Linked DNA regions of Homo sapiens. The protein of the gene in region 1 purifies or fractionates together with the protein of each later gene. This does not show direct contact. Each region holds a gene or a part of one and is shown in the gene's direction. Other genes may lie near its edges.

Region 1 (7,023 bases):
CAAAAGGGGTGGTGGCCTTGCCAAGAAAGAGGAACCAATGTGAGGCCGAGCCAATGGAGTGGCTGAGAAGGCCTTCCTAGAAGAGGAAACTGAAGCTAGAAGTTTAAAGGATAGGAATTTGAGGGGCCAACTAAGTAAATACAGGATGTTCTTGGGAGTTGTTAATGAGCTTCCTGGCCAGGGTTGAGGCAGAGTTGGTAGCTTTGCCTTATGGAGTGGCTGGAATGCCAGGCTGAAGTCATACCTTTCAGGGAGTAGTCAGACTGCCCCTTTTTTTCAGGATCTGTGGGGCATTACGCCCATGTTCTTTTAAGTAATTCCCTGAGGTTGGCTCAGGGGCTCAAGCTCTCCTTTGGGTGAAAAGCCTGGGAACCCTCCCTTCTTCCATAGTTCTCACTGGTTTCCCCCACCCCTCTGGCAAAAGGGAGAAGGACTCAGAATTGAACCAGAAGCGGCCTCAGTACATCAAAGCCAAGGAGAACACCTCCCACAAAATCAAGAAGCTGGAAGCAGCCAAGAAGTCTCTGCAGAATGCTCAGAAGCACTACAAGAAGCGTAAAGGTGACATGGATGAGCTGGAGAAGGAGATGCTGTCAGTGGAGAAGGCTCGGCAGGAGTTTGAAGAACGGATGGAAGAAGAGAGTCAGAGTCAGGGCAGAGATTTGACGTTGGAGGAGAATCAGGTAAGCTCTGGAAGGGGTTGGCAGGGAGGAGATCCCTGGGCTGACATCTGCTGACTTGGTCATCCCTGTTCTCCTTCCCTGTCCCTAACACAGGTGAAGAAATACCACCGGTTGAAAGAAGAAGCCAGCAAGAGAGCAGCTACCCTGGCCCAGGAGCTGGAGAAATTCAATCGAGACCAGAAAGCTGACCAGGACCGTCTGGATCTGGAAGAACGGAAGAAAGTAGAGACAGAGGTGGGCTATAGTTATAAGATTAGGGATGATGGTCCACAGAAAAGGATATATATAGGTTGAGCATCCCAAATCCAAAATAATCCAAAATCTGAAACGTTTCCGGTCCTAAGCATTTTGGATTAGAGTTACCCAACCTGTAATGATAGTCTTTTTTTTTGTTTTTTTGTTTTTTTGAGACAGAGTTTCGCTCTTGCCCAGGCTGGAGTGCAGTGATGTGATCTCAGCTCACCACAACCTTTGCCTCCCGGGTTCAAGCAATTCTCCTGCCTCAGCCTCCTGAGTAGCTGGGACTACAGGCGTGCGCCACCATGTCCAACTAATTTTTGTATTTTTAGTAGAGACAGGGTTTCACTACGTTGGCCAGGCTGGTCTCGAGCTCCTGACCTTGTGATCCACCCACTTCGGCCTCCCAAAGTGCTGGGATTACAGGCTTGAGCCACTGCGCCTGGCCATGATAATCTTAATGATAATGACAATGATAATGACAGTAGCTCACATCTGTTGAGCACTTACTGTATGATAGGCAATGTTCTTTACATGTATCCACTCATTTAATTCTTCATTTATTATTATCTTTATGGAATGGCTACTATTACCCTATTTTATGAATGAGGAAATTACAACACAGAGTAATTTGCCTAAGGTCACAAGATTATTGTTATTTTTGAGACAGAGTCTTTCTCTGTCATGCAGGCTGAGGTGCAGTGGTGCGACCATGGCTCACTGCAGCTTCGACTTCCCAGGCTTAAGCAATCTTCCAACCAGAGCCTCCTGAGTATCCAGCATTACTTGTGCTTGCCACCATGCCTGGCTACTTTTTTTTTTTTTTTTTTTGAGACAAAGCCTCACTCTGTTGCCCAGGCTGGAGTGCAGTGGCATGATCTCAGCTCACTGCAACCTCTGCCTGTCGGGTTCAAGTGATTCTTTTTATTTTTTTATTTTTATTTTTATTGTTTTTTGAGACGCAGTTTCTCTCTTGTTGCCCAGGCTGGAGTGCAATGGTGCCATCTCGGCTCACTACAACCTCTGTCTCCCAAGTTCAAGCAATTCTCCTGCCTCAGCCTCCCCAAGTAGCTGAGATTACAGGCACCAGCCACCATTCCCGGCTAATTTTTGTATTTTTAGTGGAGACGGGGTTTCACCTTGTTGGTCAGGCTGGTCTCGAACTCCTGACCTCAGGTGATCCACCCGCCTTGGCCTCCTAAAGTGCTGGGATTACAGGTGTGAGCCAACGCACCCAGCCCGGTTCCAGTGATTCTTGTGTCTCAGCCACCCGTGTAGGTGGGATGACAGGTGGGTGCCACCACACCTGGCTAAATTTTTTGTAGTTTTAGTAGAGATGGGATTTCACCATGTTGACCAGGCTGGTCTTGAACTTCCGAACTCAAGTGATCCGCCCGCCTCGGCCTCCTAATTTTTTAATTTTTATAGAGTCAGGGTTTCTGCTTGTTGCCCAGGCTGGTCTTAAACTCCTGCCTGCCTCTGCGATCAGCCTGCCTTGGCCTCCCAAAGTGTTGGGATTACAGGCGCGAGCCACCGTGCCCGGCCACTCACATAACTATTAAGTATCAGAACCAGACCCTGGGCATTGTAGCTCTAAAGCCCACACTCTTACCAAATATACTTTACTTACTGCCTCCCTGATATCAATATTGTAATAACAGCAATGATAGAAAGTTGTCATAGTGTCCCAGGAGTGTACAGTGTTCAGGCATTCTGCTAAGCACTTTTAAATATTTAAAAGAATGTTGGCCAGGCGTGGTGGATCACTTGAGGCCAGGAGTTTGAGATCAGCCTGAGCAACACAGTGAGACCCTGTCTCAAATTTTAAAAAATAATAAAAATTTTTTAAAAATAATGTGATAGTCATTAATATTAATAACAACCCTATATTAAGCACTTAATGTGTATTCTATGCAGTGGAGATTACCCACATTTTGCAGATGAGGAAACAGGTACAGAAAGGCCTGTGAAGCTTTATCTTGATTTGAGCCTCCATGGTTGGTGAAGAAGATGCCTTGGCTGGGTAGAACACCTATGAGAGGTTCTGGAGCTCTGGGAGGCCCCCATCATTAGTTAGTAGATCAAACCGAACACCATCTATGTCTGCTTTTTAGTAGGCCTCCTATATTAGTGACAGATTGTCCTGGACTGTTCGGCTCTTGGATGAGTGGGCACATAAAGGGTGTGATCTAGAGCCCCCATGGTCTTGGCGTAAACTCGTGCAGCCCCTGATGATGGAATGTTTGTTTCCCAGGCCAAGATCAAGCAAAAGCTGCGGGAAATTGAAGAGAATCAGAAGCGGATTGAGAAACTGGAGGAATACATCACCACTAGCAAGTATGTAGCTCTGCATCTGTCCCCCTTACTTCCAGGCCTGTTCTTGTGACCCTACCTACATGCCCCTCTTCATGCAGGACCCCCAGAGCTCTCTGAGCCAGGAGTATTTTCTCACCAGCAGGAGTAACTCCTGTGTGCCCTCACTTTGTAGGCAGTCCCTAGAAGAGCAGAAGAAGCTAGAGGGGGAGCTGACAGAGGAGGTGGAGATGGCCAAGCGGCGTATTGATGAAATCAATAAGGAGCTGAACCAGGTGATGGAGCAGCTAGGGGATGCCCGCATCGACCGCCAGGAGAGCAGCCGCCAGCAGCGAAAGGCAGAGATAATGGAAAGCATCAAGCGCCTTTACCCTGGCTCTGTGGTAAGAGCAGAGAGGGAACTCATTTCCTGAGCACTTACACTCACTGTCACACGATTTTCCCAGCAGCCCTGTAAGGACAGGGTTGCCAATCCCATTTTTATTGTTGGGGGAAATGAGGCTCGGAGAGGTTTAAAAAAGCACCGCTTCTAAGAGGAAGAACTGCAGTTCAAACCCAACTTGTTCTCCTGAGCTCATGTTCTTTTTTTTTTTTTTTTTTTTTTATTTTTCAACCTGTCATACTAGGCAATCATGTTCTTTTCATCATACCAATTGCGTCTTTCTGAAGGTTTTGTCTTGCTATGTCTATGCCTCTGGGAGGGGAATTGGAAAACCAGGAAAGATTTTGGAAGCAGGTGGGGCCATGGGGCTGGAATTACTCTCCCAGGAAGTAGCTCTGTGCAGTCTTATAAAGGGGCTCCCTTGGCATGTATTAACTGGTCCAGTAGCTTTTAGGGACACCCTGAGCTTTATCAGATCTCTTGATCTTTTGGCCTCTTTCACCAAATCCTGAGTTCCCAGGTTCCCTGAATATTATCCCATACCTGGGTTCAACTTAGTTTGGTTCCACTAATATTTCCCTATCACTTCTCTAGACACTGCTGGGGAGATAAGTATGGTTAGAGTCAGTCCCTGCCCCCTTAATCTGATAGTTCTTAGGGAACCAGGCTTGGTTTTGGAGGCTGCAGGAAGGGAACTGGTAGAAGAGATTGATTGATTGATTGATTGATTTTGAGATGGAGTCTCGCTCTGTCGCCCAGGCTGGAGTGCAGTGGCACAACCTCGGCTCACTGCAATCTCTGCCTCCTAGGCTCAAGTGATTCTCCTGCCTCAGCCTCCCAAGTAGCTGAGATTACAGGTGCTCGCCGCCATGCCCAACTAATTTTTTTGTATTTTTAGTAGAGACGGGGTTTCACCATGTTGGCCAGGCTGGTTTTAAACTCCTGACCTCAAGTGATCTGCCCGCCTCGGCCTCCCAAAGTGGTAGGGTTACAGGCGTGAGTCACCACGCCCAGCCAGATTTATTTTGCTAAGTGCTTGTGAGAATTTGAAATAATATATATAAGATACTTGGCATAGTGCCTGGGTGGTGGTGGTCTGTAAAATGGTAGATGTGAGGTTTAGAAAGATGATTCTGGATTCAGACACGACTGCCTGAAGTCATTGCTTGGGAACCAGAATAGGCTTTTCCTTGATAGCATGGGGGCTGTGTTCTTCTGTGAGATAGGAAAAAACCAAAGTGTTTTTTCTACTCTCACAACCAGCACAACACTTCACTTCTGACACCAGAAGTGTGGGGGTTTTTCCTCACACACCAAGCAATTCTCCAGCAGACACCAGCTGGGTGACCTATAATTCACTTCAGCTCTGACACTATTTATCTGGAGATAGCATCAGATCCTGTGGGTTAGGGGCTCAGTCCAAGACTTCAGGTGCCAATTGCAAGTCTCAGGTTGTGACTTGTGGTTCTGACTGACCTGCTATAAATTACAGTTCCCGAGAATCCCTCCCTGGGTTCGATTAATTTACTAGTGCAGCTCACAGAACTCAGGAAAATGTTTTACTTATGTTTACCCATTTATTATGAAGGATATTACAAAGGATACAGAGAACAGCCAGATGGATGCATAAGGCAAGGTATGGGAGAAGAGATGTGAAGCTTCCATGCCCAATCTGGGCAAGCCACCCTCCAGGTACCCCCACACAGGGGCTTCATTATGTAGTCATGATTGATCAGATCATCAGCCATCGGTGATCAGTTCAACCTTCAGCCCCTCTCCCCTCCTGAAGGTTGTAGGGGTGGAGCTAAGAGTCCCAAATCTAATCCTGCCTTGGTCTTTCTGGTAACCAGCCCCTATCCAGAAGCTATCTATGGGCCTCCAGCCATAATCATCTCATTAACATACAAAAGACACTGCTCATTCCTGAGATTCTAAGGGTTTTAGGAGTTGTGTGTCAGGAACTCACGGGTAGAAGACTAAATATATATTTCATAAAACCACAGTCCACTTTGATCTTCAAACACAGATCCCTTACATCAGAACAATCATGTAATAAATAGAAAGATGCTGGGAGCGGTAGCTCACGCCTGTAATCCTCGCACTTTGGGAGGCCGAGGCGGGCAGATCATCGGAGGTCAGGGGTTTGAGATCAGCCTGGCCAACATGGTGAAACCCCGTCTCTACTAAAAATACAAAAATTAGCCGGGCATGGTGGCGGGCACCTGTAATCCCAGCTACTCGGGAGGCTAAGGCAGGAGAATCACTTGAACCTGGGAGGTGGAGGTTGCAGTGAGCCAAGATTGCGCCACTGCACTTCAGCGTGGGCAACAGAGTGAGACTCCGTCTCCAAAAAAGAGTAGAAAGATACTGGCACATTACTAGAATCCCACTGAGTCATTAATTAATAATTAGTCTAGTCCATGATCATGTCATGTAAAAATGTCTCCTAGGGTGAGGCCATTCAGGTTTGCAGGCTTCTATTCAATCTTGTTAGGTTCCAAAACCAGGAGTGTTCTCGGCAAACATAGCTTCATACTTTCAGGCATCTGGGATAATTGTGCTAAGAGACAATATCATCTCTTGCTCTGAACCTCTTTTGAGGTGTTAATGTAATACTGAGTTTCCCTCATTACATAACTCATTTATTCATTTCTTTACCTCCCTTCTCTTACCCAAACTTTTCCACCTTTCAAAGGGACGTTAGGATTGGCCACTGTGCTGATCTGGAGTGCACACAGCAAGCTAGTCTGCAATTGCCTCCTCCTCAGTCCATACAGTCTCATTCAGATAGGGTAGGGTTGCATGGGTACAGAACTAGTGGGCTGTCTTTTTTGTTTGTTTTGAGACAGGGTCTCATTATGTTGCCCAGGCTGGTCTTGAACTCCTGGGCTTAAGCTGTCCTCCCATTGCAACCTCCCAAGTAGCTAGGATTACAAACACACACTACCATGCTTGGTATTGGGTTATCTTAACCACTAGGCAATACAGTTGCATTCACTTCCTGATATAGATTCTAGTCTGTCCCCCTTTCCATACTGGGAATTAGGATTCCTGAGCCAGCTTCCAAAAGCTTCATACTTCAGTTTTCCCTTCCTACTTTACTCAGTACGGCCGCCTCATTGACCTATGCCAGCCCACACAAAAGAAGTATCAGATTGCTGTAACCAAGGTTTTGGGCAAGAACATGGATGCCATTATTGTGGACTCGGAGAAGACAGGCCGGGACTGTATTCAGTATATCAAGGAGCAGCGTGGGGAGCCTGAGACCTTCTTGCCTCTTGACTACCTGGAGGTGAGGCTTGTTGGGGATTGGGTCAGGCCAGTGTTCAAGGGCCCCTCCTCTAGTACTCCCTGTTTGTGTTCTGCCACTGACTGAGCTTCTCCCCACAGGTGAAGCCTACAGATGAG
Region 2 (7,434 bases), on another chromosome or scaffold:
TCAGCCTCCCAAGTAGCTAGGACTACAGGTGTGCGCCACCCCACCAGGCTAATTTTTGCATATATATATATATGCAAATATATATATATATATTAGTAGAGATGAGGTTTTGCCATGTTGGTCAGGAGCTCTAGAATTTGTATATAGAAGGAGCTGTAGTGAAATTGGGGGTTAGGGGTTTGTCCTCAAATTGCATTGGACGCAATTTTGTACATAGATTATATAACTGAATGTATGTGTGAGGGGGACACTGATTGAAATTATGTGGGAGGTAGAATAAAGACTCACAAAGCCACCCCTTTGTGCAATTATTAACCACATAAAACTCTTTGATTTTTTTATTTTATTTTATTAAAAAAAATTATGTAGAGCTTAGTATATGCGAGTTACTATTCTAGGCATTTTACAAATATTAACTTATGGCCAGGCGCAGGGGCTCACACCTGTAATCTTAGCACTTTGGGAGGCCAAGGCGGGCGGATCACCTGAGGTCGGGAGTTCAAGAGCAGCCTGGCCAACATGGTGAAATCCCATCACACTAAAAATACAAAAAATTGCTGGGCATGGTGGTGCGTGCCTGTAATCACAGCTACTAGGGAAGCTGAGGCAAGAGAATCACTTGAACCTGGGAGGCAGAGGTTGCAGTGAGCCGAGACTGCAACACTGCACTCCAGCCTGGGCGACAGAAAAAAAAATTAAGTTATGTATTCCTCATAATGATCATGTGAGGAAGATACTATCATTATCCTTGTTTTACAGATGAAGAAAATGAGGCACAGAAGAATTAAGTGGTTTGACCAACATTGCCTAACTCAGGACATACATCATATCACCTCTTTGCTTAAAACAGTCCATTAGTTCCCCACCTCAATCAGAGGATAGCCACAGTCTTACCAGAGGTCTAAAAGGCTACATGTGATCTGTACTCTCTCTCACTCCAGGGAGTCTCACTCTGTCGCCCAGGCTGGAGTGCAGTGGTGCTTTCTCAGCTCGCTGCAACCTCCATCTCCCCGGTTCAAACGATTCTCCTGCCTCAGCCTTCTTAGTAGCTGGGATTACAGACATGTGCCAGTGCGCCTGCCTAATTTTTGTATTTTTAGTGGAGACAGGGTTTCACCATGTTGGTCAGGCTGGTCTGGAACTCCTGACCTCAGGTGATCCACCCACCTCGGCTTCCCAAAGTGCTGGGATTACAGTCCTGAGCCACCGTGCCTGAGCCACTGAGTCTAATTTTTTGTCTTTTTAATAGAGATGGGGTTTCACCATGCTGGCCAGGCTGGTCTGAAACTCGTGACCTCAAATAGTCTGCCTGCCTCCCCCTCCCAAAGTGCTGGGATTACAGGTGCGAGCCACCGTGCCCAACTCTTCCCTACTTTATTTTCATATACATGTATTATTGTTATTTTGGTCTATTTCTCCCCAAACAAATTAAGGTCCACCAGGAGGGCAGGCCTTCATTTGTGAAACAATTATTTAAAGAGGCCTATAATATAAGGCATTGTTTTGGGCACTGAGCGGGGAAGAAAAGCTTGGTGGAGGTTGGGTGCAGTGGCTCATGCCTGTAATTCCAGCACTTTGGGAGCCCAAGGTGGGTGGATCACCTAAGGTCAAGAGTTCGAGACCAGGCTGGCCAACATGGTAAAACCCTGTCTCTACTAAAAGTACAAAAATTAGCCAGGCGTGGTGGCGCATGCCTGTAGTCCCAGATCTTGGGAGGCTGACGCAGGAGATCTGCTTGAACCCAGGAGGCGTAGGTTGCAGTGCGCCCAGATTGTACCACTGCACTCCAGCCTGGGCAACAGAGCAAGACTTCGTCTCGAAAAAATAAAATAGGCCAGGCGCAGGGGCTCACACCTGTAATCCCAGCACTTTGGGAGGCCGAGGCGGGCAAATCACGAGGTCAGGAATTCGAGATCAGCCTGGCCAATATGGTGAAACTCCATCTCTACTAAAAATATAAAAATAAGCTGGGCGTGGTGGTGTACGCCTGTAGTCCCAGCTACTTGGGAGACTGAGGCAGATGAATCGCTTGAACCTGGGAGGCAGAGGTGAAGTGAACCGAGATCGCACCACTGCACTCAAGCCTGGTGATAGAGTGAGACTCCATGTTAAAAAAAAAAAAAAAGAAATCAACCAGTAAGGCCAGGCACGGTGGCTCAAGCCTGTAATCCCAGCACTTTGGGAGGGTGAGGCGGGCAGATTACCTGAGGTCAGGAGTTTGAGACCAGCCTGACCAACATGGTGAAACCCTGTCTCTACTAAAAATAACAAAAATTAGCCGGGCATAGTGGCGGGCGCCTGTAATCCCAGCTACTTGGGAGGGTGAGGCAGGAGAATTGCTTGAACCCAGAAGTCAGAGGTTGTAGTGAGCCAAGATCACACCACCACACTCCAGCCTGGGCGACAGAGGGAGACTCTGTCTCAAAAAAAAATTAGCCCGGTATGGTGGCACACACCTGTAGTCCCAACTACTTGGGGGCCTGAGGCACAAAAGTCGCTTGAACCTGGGAGGCGGATGCTGTAGTGAGCCGAGATCATGCCACTGCACTGCAGTCTGGGCGACAAAGTGAGACTTCATCTCAAAAAATAATAAAATAATATAAAAAATAAATAAAATAAAATATATGTACATATACAAAACTCCATTTAATAATGGGCAAGCTACTGAGGAGGATGAAAGATAAAATCATTGTTGTTTAATTAAATGTAACACACAAAGAAATATCAAATTTGGCCGGGCGCGGTGGCTCATGCCTGTAATCCCAGCACTCTGGGAGGCCGAGGCGGGCGGATCACTAGCTCAGGAGATCGAGACCATCCTGGCTAACATGGTGAAACCCCGTCTCTACTAAAAATACAAAAAAAAAAAATTAGCCGGGCGTGGTGGCGGGCGCCTGTAGTCCCAGCTACTCGGAAGACTGAGGCAGGAGAATGGCGTGAACCCGGGAGGCAGAGCTTGCAGTGAGCCGATATCACGCCACTGCACTCCAGCCTGGGTGACAGAGTAAGATTCCGTCTCAAAAGAAAAAAATAAATATCAAAAGTGACAGGGAGAGCCTAAAAAGAGAGCAGCTTTTGGTCCACTTAATAGTTTGGATGAGGACACTTTTAAATGGATTCTGCCTGGTACTGTAAATGCCCAAGAACAAAGCATTGACTTTTGGGCAGAGTTCTAGCAAATCAGCAACTGTGGAGTGTCAGATTCGCAATGACTGCTCTTGTGTAATACGTCAAAAACAAGTCAGTGAGCTGAAATGCAGTACCTTTACTATTTTTAAGTTGACGTTAAAGGATGTGGGAAAAAAATAGACCAATGGGTACCCATCAAGAATAATTTGAATAAACAATCGAATATCATTTTAAACTATGGTAGTGGTCAGTTTCAAGAGCTGAATGTGATTTCATATTATCGTATCCTTTTTTCAACTTTCTCTTCGGAAATTTTGTGTATGCTCTTGATTTTTTTTAAATAGGTAAGTGTATGTTCTTGCGTTAATTTGTTTCAATTACATACATTAAATTGCTCAAACACTGCTGCGTGCACTGTTTTTACCTGATAGTGGTTTTCCTTTGGATGACAGAAAACGTTAATGCTTGGTAGGTTTAAAACATTTTTAAAAAATGAGCTCTTCCTTATTTACAAGAATCACCCACCCAATTAATAAATGCTTATTTCTGGGTTCCACTCTCAGAGATTTTTATGTTTATGTATATTTTTATATTTTTTAGTGTTTTATTTTATATGTTATATTTTTATATGTTTTATGTTCATATATATTTTTACGTTAAAAAAACATATATTTTTATGTTTTTTAATCTTTGGAGTTGGAAACCTACGTTTTCAGCCAGTACCCAAAGTGATTGTGAGGCCTGGTGGCCCAAAGACCATACCTTGAGAACGACTCGACCCAATGCTATTTTCATGTTTTGCAGCTTTCAAAATATTAACTTCAGAAATCTAAGGAGGGTGGGCAACTCGGGTGGCTGTCAGAAGACCCGAGAGTGAGCCGCTCACGCTGCGCCCCATTGCACAACTTTCCTTGACTTTGCAGATCTCTCCCTGAGGAGGAAATCAGTTCATTTTCACCGAGCAATTAACTACCTCCCAACCAGTTTCGTCTATGTCCCTCAGGATGACCCCCAAAAGTCACCAGCTCATCGCCGCTGCGAAAGATAAAGCACTGTTTGCCCTGCGTGCCCTCGCAAGGCCGCGGGAACCTGGGCTCGCTTCCCGCCACCCGGGCTCCTCCTCCTCTCGCCCTCTCCGGTCGGGTCCTCCGGGAGGCGCCCCGCGCGGCAGGTATTGGCGCCAACCGGGTGGCGGCGCTGTCCGCCCTGCGCGCGGCCGCCTCGGGCCCGAGGGAGGCGGATGCACGGCCGGCGGAGGAAGGGGAGGGAGCGAGGAGCGCGCGCTGCTCTCGCGTGCTCTCGCGCCGCTCGCGTGACCGGCCGGTGTGTGCGCGAGGCCCCGGCTCCCGGGGCACGGACGGCCGGGCGCGCGCCTCTGCGAGGGGCGTCCGGGTCCGAGTCGGCGGTCCGGGCCGGCGCGAGGTGCGTGCGGGCGGGCCGCGGGGGTCCCGGACGGACACAAGCGCACACACTCCCGGAGGAGCCTTCGAGGCTGCTCTTCCTCGGCCAGACGGAGAGCGGCACTGTCTCCCCGCCCAGCGCTCACTCGCCCCGCGTCTCCCCCCGCGGCGGCTGCTCCTCCTCGGCACCGCCAGCCCCAGCGCCGCTCCCGGGCGGGCGGGCGGCGGCGGCGGCGGCGGCGGGACCCGCGGAGCCGCTTTGTGTGCAGCCCGACTAGGGGCGGCGGCGCAACCACCTGACAGAGGCCCGGGCGCTCGATGCACCTTCCGCCCGCATGAGGAGGAGGTAAAGGCGGCGGCGGCTCGGCTCCCGCCCTAGGCTGCTGGAGGGAGGGGACGGAAGGGGAGACTGGAGGGGGGGGCCGCGGGTCCGAGGCCCGGTGGGGCCGCCCGAGGGTGCCGGGAAGGCCTCGGCGGTGCCGGAGGCGCCAAGCGGCCGGGGGCCAGAGAAGCAGCTGGGGTCCCTCAGCCGAAGTTGAAGGAACAAAATGTGAAGTGCGGAGGCGCGTCAGCCGCTTCCTGGCGTGGGGCTGAGGGTGGAGGGCGGCTTGTTTTCCCCTCCCGCGGGGGTGAGGGAGCGGAACAGGGGAGGGGTGGCAGCGCGGCGGGGACTACCCCGGGTCCGAGGCTCGGCTGGGCAAGGGCGTTTTGTTCCCGGCAGCCGCCGCTGCGCGTGGGTCCGCTGGGTCCCTAGTTTTGCGGCCTAAGCCGAGCCCTATAGGCCTCGGGTCTGGTTTCCCGGAGGGGACTGGCCGGGCGGGACTGGGTGCTTCCCCACCGCCGAGCGGGGGCCTTGGGGTCCTTGCCGGCCTCCCGGGGCCGCCAAACTTCGGACCCTGGTGCTCGGGGGTGGATTTCATTGTGAAAGGCGGAATGGGAAACTCCTGGCGCTGTTCGGCGGCCACGGCGGCTGGTGCGGAGGAGCCCCGTGAGCCTGGGGCTGGCAGGGCCGGGTTGGCGGGGCCGGCGGGGTTCGATCCCTGGGAAAGAGCGGGTGGCGAGGCCGCTGCCGGGTCCCCGGCCTCTGGGGAGACAGGGCCTTTTCCAGATTAGAGAGATTTGAAATGAAAAAAGAGGTTACAAAGTCGCCCCTTTCCCGCTGAACTTTGGTTTTCTGACCGATAGAGGCCGGTAGAGGACTGTGAACCAAAAGTTGTCCCCCAGGATGGACTTCACCGCGCAGCCCAAGCCTGCCACTGCCCTCTGTGGCGTCGTGAGTGCCGACGGGAAGATCGCTTACCCTCCGGGGGTAAAAGAGATCACCGACAAGATCACCACGGACGAGATGATCAAACGCCTGAAGGTAAGTGTCTGGACGGATTTTGATGTCTTTGGTAGAAGGCGCTTTCTCCTGTGATACTGCTACCCTGCTCAGTCTGGCCTTTAAAGTTCCAAGTTTTTTAGATCTCTTACCCCCTCTGAAAGGTACTGTTGTATCTCAGATAACATCTTTGAGTGAGTTTTGTAGGGATATAACCATTGTGGGAAATTTAAAAGGAGTGTGATTTTTCAAAAACTTACTGGTTTTCAAGCATAAGAATTTGTGTTTTTAGAGTTTTTTCTGGAGGTATTTAATGAGAATACTGTTCAGAGTGGCTTGCAAACTTAGGTGTAGGCAGTAATTTGCCTAAGAAGTTTACTATTTTCAGCTTCTGAAGGGGATTGATTAAAGCGCAAAGTCCTTTTTAAAAATTTGCATAATTTTCTATATCCAGAAGCTTAAATATGTATATATGGTGGTTAAACTTTGACAGAAGGTACAGACTTTTCATAATTCAGGCTTAAAGTAAGATGATTTAAGTCTATACGTTCAAAGGAGTTTAAGAGTATTATGGCCCTTTTTATGAGGTGTCAGCTAATTTTGTTTAAGCATGGCAGTCCTAAGGTTAAGGTTTTAAATTTCAACCTCATGTTTGTTAGTTTTTTTGGTTTCTGTTCCACTGACATAGATTGTGGCCAGAATCTTAACAAATAAGTAATATTCTTCTTGTAGGAACAGCTTGAAGCAGTGGTTCTGAGTCAGGGCAACTTTGACCTCCAGGAGATGTTTGGCAATGCTGGAGACATTTTGGTTGTCACAATTGGTGCTAGATTGGAGTAGGGGAAGACCAGAGGCAGTGAGTCCGGCTAGGAAACTGTAAACAGTAGTCTAGGTGAAAGACGTTGAAATCTTCAGGTAGGGCTATGGCATTGGTAATAGTGACTAGGAAATGATTTAACAACTTTTCAGAGTTAGAATCAATCAGAATTGGTGGGAGGTGAGGGAAGCAACATTGTTGACAATGTTTCCACCTTGGGCCACTTGGCCAAATGTATTTTAGGGAATGAGCTTGGCCTCTTGCTCTTGGAGCCCAGTAAATGTACCTAATGTTGCATTTTAATGAGTACAGTATTTAAAATATTCCTGTGGTTTAGTTTTCAGACTCTTAATTTGGTTCTGCAATTTGTTGCCTTTTTGGAAGGAATAAGACAACAGTTCCTTTCATTAAAACAAATCTGTGTGCGGCGGCGGGATCTCAGCTCACTGCAACCTCCACTTCCCAGGTTCAAGCTATTCTGCCTCAGCCTCCCAAGTAGCTGGGACTACCAGCGTGTGCCACCACACCCGGCTAAATTTTTTTTTTTTTTTTTTTTTTGAGACGGAGTCTTGCTCTGTCACCTAGGCTGGAGTGCAGTGGCGCGTCTCGGCCCACTGCAACCTCCACCTCCCGGGTTCAAGCAATTCTGCCTCAGCCTCTCTAGTAGCTGGGATTACAGGTGCCTGCCACCACGCCCAGCTAATTTTTGTATTTTTAGTAGAGATGGGATTTCACTATGTTGGTCACTTTGGTCTCGATCTCCTGAC
Region 3 (7,023 bases), on another chromosome or scaffold:
AGAGTCTCATCCTGTGTTCTTCATAAGGTTCATAGTGCAGGGCCTGGCACATAGTAAACACCCAGCGAGTATTGGCCACTATCATTATTTACCTTCTTTGGGCTGTAGTTTTCTCATCTGGAAAGTGGAGTTTATGGTGGGTTCTGCTCTGCTTGCCGCTTAGGGCTGTTAATTTGCATGAAAGTATCATAAGTCCATTTCATTTTTATACATTAGCCACAGCAGAACGGGATCTCTCCGCGCATGTTTAAGGCCTTTGTAAGCAAGAGCCACCCGGAATTCTCCTCTAACAGGCAGCAAGATGCCCAGGAATTCTTCTTGCACCTGGTGAATCTAGTAGAGGTGAGTAGTCAGTCTTCACGGATGCTCAGCGGGGTTGTAAGAGGGTGCCGAGCCACTCAGTGCAGTCTGCTGTGGCTTGATCAGAATGCCTCCCCACTCTCTTTCTTCAATCTCTCCTGTTAAAGCTGGTTCAGAATCAGATCCCTGGAAACTCTCTGCTCAGCCAACTTGATGTGACTGCTCTTCACACTCCAGTTTCCAGACACTTGTGGATCTCTGTGCTTCTTTTAACCTGTATGTGTTATAGGAGTGCTTGCCAGTTATTCCATTCACAATTTATTTTTTTCTGGTCTTTGTGACAAAGTTCCTTAAGAGCCCTGCGTGGTATTTGGTGTCCTCCTGCCACTGCTCAAAGATGATGAGTCTGCTTACATCAGAATCGAATGCCATTAAAAACTTTTTTTTTTTTTTTGAGACTGAGTCTAGCTCTGTTGCCCAGGCTAGAGTGCAGTGGCACAATCTTGGCTCACTGCAACCTCTGCCTCCTGGGTTCAAGCAATTCTACTGCCTCAGCCTCCTGAGTAGCTGGGATTATAGGAGCCTGCCACCACGCCCGGCTAATTTTTGTATTTTTAGTAGAGATGGGGTTTCACCATGTTGGTCAGGCTGGTTTTGAACTCCTGACCTTGTGATCCACCCGCCTCGGCCTCCCAAAGTGCTGGGATTACAGGTGTGAGCTGGAAAGCCACTGAGAATTCCTGAGTAAAGCCTTTTTTTTTTTTCCTGGTTACAACAGTGTTCTTTGTGGAAAATATAGAAAACACAAAGGAGAACATCAAAATCCCCCTTAATGCCACGCCCTGCAGCCAGCCAGTGTTTTTTGTTTGTTTGTTTGTTTGTTTGTTTTTGTTTGTTTGTTTTTGACAGAGTCTTGCTCTTGTCGCCCAGGCTGGAGTGCAGTGGCACGATCTTGGCCCACTGCAACCTCCGCCTTGCAGGTTCAAGTGATTCTTCTGTTGTTTGTTTCCTTGTTAGAACTAGGCTGCAGTGGTTTCTCTTGTCTGCCTCAGGGTTACTGATTCACATGTCTGCTCAGGTCCATGATCTTTTCTAACTCTGTTTATCATTTATTAGTGATAACTTTTTTTTTTTAGAATAAAGCCTCCCGAGTAGCTGGGATTATAGGCACCCACTACCATGCCTGGCTAATTTTTTTGTATTTTTAGTAGAGACGGGGTTTCACCATGTTGGCCAGGCTGGTCTCGAACTCCTGACCTCAGATGATCCACCCGCCTCCGCCTCCCAAAGTGCTGGGATTACAGGCATGAGCCACTGTGCCCGGCCAACAGCCAGTGTTCACAGGTTGGCATCTGCCCCTCCCATCACTTTCCAGGTCTTATGTTAATTCTCTACATGCTCTTCTGTAAGCAGTGTTTTCACTTAAATGTTTGCCACATCATCACATCTGTTAACAGAGCATAATTTCTGTTTTATTTGTACCTAATTTACATGAGTGTATTTATATAATCATATTGTACATGTTTTTATGTTTCCAGGGCAGCCCTTTATTTTTTTCCCTTTCTCTTTTGATTGGCTTCTCCTCCTCCTTTCTTCTCATTCCATGAATTTCTCTCCCATGGTTTTTAATTTAATAATATTGAAATAGTAATCCATGATGAACTATATTTTATTTTACCAATCCCCATTTTTGGACTTTAGATAAATTCCAGTGTTTTTCTATTAAAGTGCTTTGGTGAATGGGCATGGCCAGAGGAAATGTTTAATAAAGCCAAGTGTTTACACCGGGTTTAGAGTTCATTTTCTACTAAGTCTTAGTGGCTCAATATTCATACATTTACTAACCTGATACAATCCATCCTTCAGAGGAACCGCATCGGCTCAGAAAACCCAAGCGATGTTTTTCGTTTTTTGGTGGAAGAACGCATTCAGTGCTGTCAGACCCGGAAAGTCCGCTACACGGAGAGGGTGGATTACCTGATGCAGTTACCTGTGGCCATGGAGGCGGCAACCAACAAGGGTAACAATTCCAAAGCGGGAAATTGGTACTGTGTGTCTTCATATGGGAAAACCCTCAAATCAGAGAGAATGGTTTAGTCACTGAAGTGTGTCAGGAGTAGACCCAGCCCAGGTGATGTCTGCTTTGCACATCTCTTTTCATCTCTTTGTTAGTTCCCATGTGACTTTTCCTTTGAGAAGAATCAAATGCATCACAGGTTTTATGGAGGCGTTATGGTTGGAACCTACGTCACTGCCTATAAATTTGGCCAACTACTGAATATGGAGTCAGCATAATTTTGGGGAAAATTATTGGTAATGATGTATGTAGAAAATTCTTTAACACTGTCATTTATAAGTTGTGCTATAAAGTCTGAGGGAAATGATCAGGACTGCATTTTTTAAAGTTAGACATTCGAGCAGAGGTCTCTTGAAATAATCCAGCTTTGGCACATGAGTATTTGAGCCACCTCTTCTGGGAGATAAATTGTGTCAGGGTTCTTTGTAGAAGCAAAGCCCATTAGAAGGGTCTCTGGGCTTTGGAAGAGAGAAGGAGGCAGAGATGTGGCACTCATGTTTGGTGCCTTCTCCTTCCATCAGTCTAAGCTGGTTCTTCCTAGGCAGAATAGACAAATGGCATTTCTTCGAATTAACATCGTAGAAGCAAAAAAGACAAAATAGCTGCTGGATTGTGCATCTCCTGTGAACTAGTCATTTTTGTAAAGTTCAGCAATTCCACTATGCAGCCATGAAAAGGAATGAGATCATGTCCTTTGCACATGGATGAAGCTGGAAGCCCTCATCCTCAGCAAACTAACACAGGAACAGAAACCAAACACCGCATATTCTCACTCATAAGTGCGAGTTGAACATTGAGAACATATGGACACAGGGAGGGGAACATCACACACTGAGGCCTGTTGGTGGGTGGGGGGAAAGGGGAGAGAACTTAGAGGACAGGTCAGTAGGTGCAGCAAACCGCCACGGCACACATATACTTATGTAACAGACCTGCACGTTCTACACATGTATCCTGGAGTTTTTTTGTTTTTTGTTTTTTTTTTTGAGAATAAAGAAAAAAAAATTCAGCGGTTCCCTGGATGGCCCTTTTTGCTCTTTCTTGTGTGTGGGGGGTGGTGGGTCAGTTTATGATGTTAGTTGGAAAGTGATGATTATGATGATTTAAGATGAAACGATTTTCATTTTCTATATGCTCATGCAGTTTTTGATCAGTTTCAAAATCCTTTTGGTGTAGAAACAAGGGAATGGGAGTCTGCTGTTTGTTTCCTTGTTAGAACTAGGCTGCAGTGGTTTCTCTTGTCCGCCTCAGGGTTACTGACTCACGTGTCTGCTCATGTCCATGATCTTTTTTTAACTCTGTTTATCATTTATTAGTGATAACTACTTTTTTTTTTCAGAAAGGAGATTTATAATTTAGTCTCTGGAATTTGACTGTTGGGAACACCTAATGTTAGCAACCTAGATATAAGTACATCATAAACTGATTGGGGACAGGGGAATGAATTTTAAACCATCTAAGATGTGTTTAGGAAAACACATATGTGCGTAAGTGTACCTACAAACTGATAAATAAGGAGTTTTTTTTTTTTTTTTTTTGAGTAATACAAAAGAAATGACCAGAAAGGCCATTCAAATTGACATAAAATTTTGACTACAGGCTAGTTTCCAGGACCAGATCTGCTGGTGCTTGGGAGGTTCCTCTTTTTCCCTTAGTATTTAATCATTTGAGTAGGAATAGCACAGAGGCCTTCTGGGTTGGTAGCCCTGATGTCTGAGGTGTTGGGTAACCTCCACAGGAAGTTGTCTCGGCAGTGTTGGTTACTGTCATGGGTTGTTTGATGGTGGCTAACTGCAGTCCTGTAGTTATCCTCCTCCTTGGCCTCACAGGGACCCATGTGGGACCCATGACCTCTAATCATAGTTGCTGGTGGAACCAAATCAGAAAATGTGTAACACTCGATCTGGCTCTTGCCAGGCGCTTAGTGGTGGTTCTGTTTTTTTTTTTGTTTTGTTTTGTTTTTTTCTGCCTTTGGTTATTTTATTTTAAAACAGCTTAAAGTTAACAAGAATGTTTTTGTTACTTTTGTGTATGTGTGTGTGATCATTGGCAAAAATTGATCCCCTTACACAATGTAACATCTCTTTCTGGCCTTATCTGTTGGGTTGTGGAGGGAGTGCTGATCAGAGTTTTAAGTCCAGCTTTGCCAATAATTGGCTGGTTTTGACTTTGGGCCTCAGTTCTTCAGCAAGGCAGTGAAGGACTGGGAAGACGTGAGCCCTTGGACCTTTTCTGGCTGTGAAATACTCTGATGCGAAGGCCTTGTGTTGGGAGGATGGCATTTGAATAATCCCAGTATTGGCCTTTGGACAAACCAGGTTCATGGGCATTTATATCACACACATGGTCTGGCCCTCTCACCCACCCAGGCCAGGCCAAGCTCACACTTCCCTCCTGTCAGTCGCAAAGGGGAGCATGCAAAAAGATGTAAATGGCTTGATACCACCTGTTGGTGCAACTCTAAAGACAGCCCCAGAACAGCCTTTCAGCAGGGGCATCTGGCTCTGTAAAGGGCGACAAATAAGCAACTCTGGCCCAGCGCAGAAGCCTTCAGGGAAGACTGTCCAAAGAGGGTGCTTTTCATTTCCACAGGGTAAGAGCGATTGCAAGGTCTTTGATTTGCTCTTTCACCCAGATGAACTGATCGCTTATGAACTAACGAGAAGGGAAGCAGAAGCAAACAGAAGACCCCTTCCTGAGTTGGTACGTGCCAAGATACCATTTAGTGCCTGCCTTCAGGCCTTCTCTGAACCAGAAAATGTTGATGATTTCTGGAGCAGTGCCCTACAAGCAAAGTCTGCGGGTGTGAAGTAAGTGTGTGTATATGTGGTGGCAGTGGGGTGAGGAGGGGCCTTGAGGGGTGGGGACAGGGGTAAGGGAAAGGGGGTGGGTGTTATTTGTGTCTGTGTGTGTTTGTTCATGTGTGATGGATGGGATTATGGTTCACACACCCTAACTGTCGTCAAACTTCACTTGTGTGAGACCTGTCCAATAAAACAGGCCTGTGATTTATATTACGTGCTAAGGAGGGGTTTTCTTTTTTCTTTTTTTAAATGTAAGGTTGTGATTTATTCTCTATTAGGAGCCTTCCTTCCTTCCTTCCTTCCTTTCTTTCTTCCTTTCTTCCTTCCTTCCTTCCTCCTTCCCTTCCTCCCAACCTTGACCCCACCCCCAGCCCCTCTCTTACCAAGAGGATACAGCCAAGAAACAATCCCCTACCCGCAAATGGCAAGAATGACATTATTCATGAAGAAATTACAAAAATGCTGAAGACAGGCCTCCATATTTAAACTCCATTGTGCTATATTTTAACTCCATAATTAAAGACTTAGTCTAGAACTTGGTTGGCTATGTTTCTCCTTGGAGACTAGGAGTCTCAGGACATCTCAAAGTGGACAGGAAGTCTCCTGAGCATTGTTGAAACGAGCCGCTCAGGGTTTAGTCAGATGTCTTGTTTTCACATTGTGAGGCTGGTTGTCAGACACATAAAAGTTTTTTTTTCTCCGTCTGCCACCCTAGTTGATTTGATGCAGTCGAGTCCTTGCCAACACACTTCATATCACTGCACTTAATTGGAAAAAGAGTGCTTGCAGTGGCATAAAACAAAGGGAGGTCTGAAAGTTTGGCTCCAGGAGTTTTGCTACGTTCAGATATTCTTTGGCCATTTTTCTTTGAGGCTAAGATTGAGATTTTGGCTAACATAAAGGGGATTAAAGGATGGAACGGCTGGTGTGGGCTGTTTTTACCATGGCCTCAATAGCAGTTCAACCTATATATATATATATAAAATTTTATATATAAAATGTATATATATAAAATTTTATATATATACATATAATATATATAAGTATTATATATATTTTTTAGAGGGAGTCTCGCTCTGTCACCCAGGCTGGAGTGCAGTGGCATGATCTTGGCTCACTGCAACCTCTGCCTCCCAAGTTCAAGCAATTCTCCTGTTTCAGCCTCCTGAGTAGCTGGGAATGCAGGCACATGCCACCAAGCCCGGCTAATTTTTGTATATTTTTTTTTGTTTTTTTTTGAGACGGAGTTTTGCTTTTGTTGCCCAGGCTGGAGTGCAGTGGCACAATCTCTGCTTGCCACAACCTACGCCTCCCAGGTTCAAGTGATTCTCCTGCCTCAGCTTCCCGAGTAGCTGGGATTACAGGCCTGTGCCACCATGCCCGGCTAGTTTTGTATTTTTAGTAGAGATGGGGTTTCTCCATGTTGGTCAGGCTGGTCTCGAACTCCCAACCTCAGGTGATCCTCCCTCCTTGGCCTCCCAAAGTGCTGGATTACAGGCATGAGCCACCGCACCCAGCCAATTTTTGTTTTTTTAGTGGAGACAGGGTTTCACTATTTAGCCAGGCTGATCTGGAACTCCTGACCTCAGGTGATCTGCCCTCCTCAGCCTCCCAAAGTGCTGGGATTACAGGCATGAACCACCATGTCCGGCCTCAACCTATATTATTTGTTCTCTGTGAAACCCCTCCCTCAGGCTTCTGCTATGTTTCAGATTGTAGAGTTCATATGTTAAAAACAGGAAAGCAAAAACAATTTATTTCAAAAAGGAAAAACAAGCCATATTTGTTAAAATTATTTTTAAAAAGCTCCCTATCCAAGGGAGATTAATAGTAGTTCATTCA

The links. Proteins that work in one complex are often made in the same cells at the same time.
Region 2: the proteins of SMC1A (region 1) and PDS5A purify together in Homo sapiens (co-immunoprecipitation; 8 studies listed by BioGRID and IntAct, with this or other methods). This does not show direct contact.
Region 3: the proteins of SMC1A (region 1) and USP13 purify together in Homo sapiens (affinity purification with mass spectrometry; 5 studies listed by BioGRID and IntAct, with this or other methods). This does not show direct contact.

What each region holds. Positions count from the first base shown.
Region 1 is NC_000023.11:53,405,655-53,412,677, reverse strand, and holds part of SMC1A (structural maintenance of chromosomes protein 1A), read left to right. Parts: intron 1-424; coding exon 425-683; intron 684-776; coding exon 777-917; intron 918-3,174; coding exon 3,175-3,257; intron 3,258-3,408; coding exon 3,409-3,616; intron 3,617-6,721; coding exon 6,722-6,907; intron 6,908-6,912; exon of another isoform or gene 6,913-7,005; coding exon 7,006-7,023. UniProt on the Homo sapiens protein: Involved in chromosome cohesion during cell cycle and in DNA repair. Central component of cohesin complex. The cohesin complex is required for the cohesion of sister chromatids after DNA replication.
Region 2 is NC_000004.12:39,974,898-39,982,331, reverse strand, and holds the start of PDS5A (sister chromatid cohesion protein PDS5 homolog A), read left to right. Parts: upstream 1-4,420; 5' UTR 4,421-4,875; intron 4,876-5,063; exon of another isoform or gene 5,064-5,084; intron 5,085-5,714; 5' UTR 5,715-5,754; coding exon 5,755-5,892; intron 5,893-7,434. UniProt on the Homo sapiens protein: Probable regulator of sister chromatid cohesion in mitosis which may stabilize cohesin complex association with chromatin. May couple sister chromatid cohesion during mitosis to DNA replication.
Region 3 is NC_000003.12:179,740,031-179,747,053, forward strand, and holds part of USP13 (ubiquitin carboxyl-terminal hydrolase 13), read left to right. Parts: intron 1-216; coding exon 217-342; intron 343-2,166; coding exon 2,167-2,320; intron 2,321-5,012; coding exon 5,013-5,187; intron 5,188-7,023. UniProt on the Homo sapiens protein: Deubiquitinase that mediates deubiquitination of target proteins such as BECN1, MITF, SKP2 and USP10 and is involved in various processes such as autophagy, endoplasmic reticulum-associated degradation (ERAD), cell cycle progression or DNA damage response.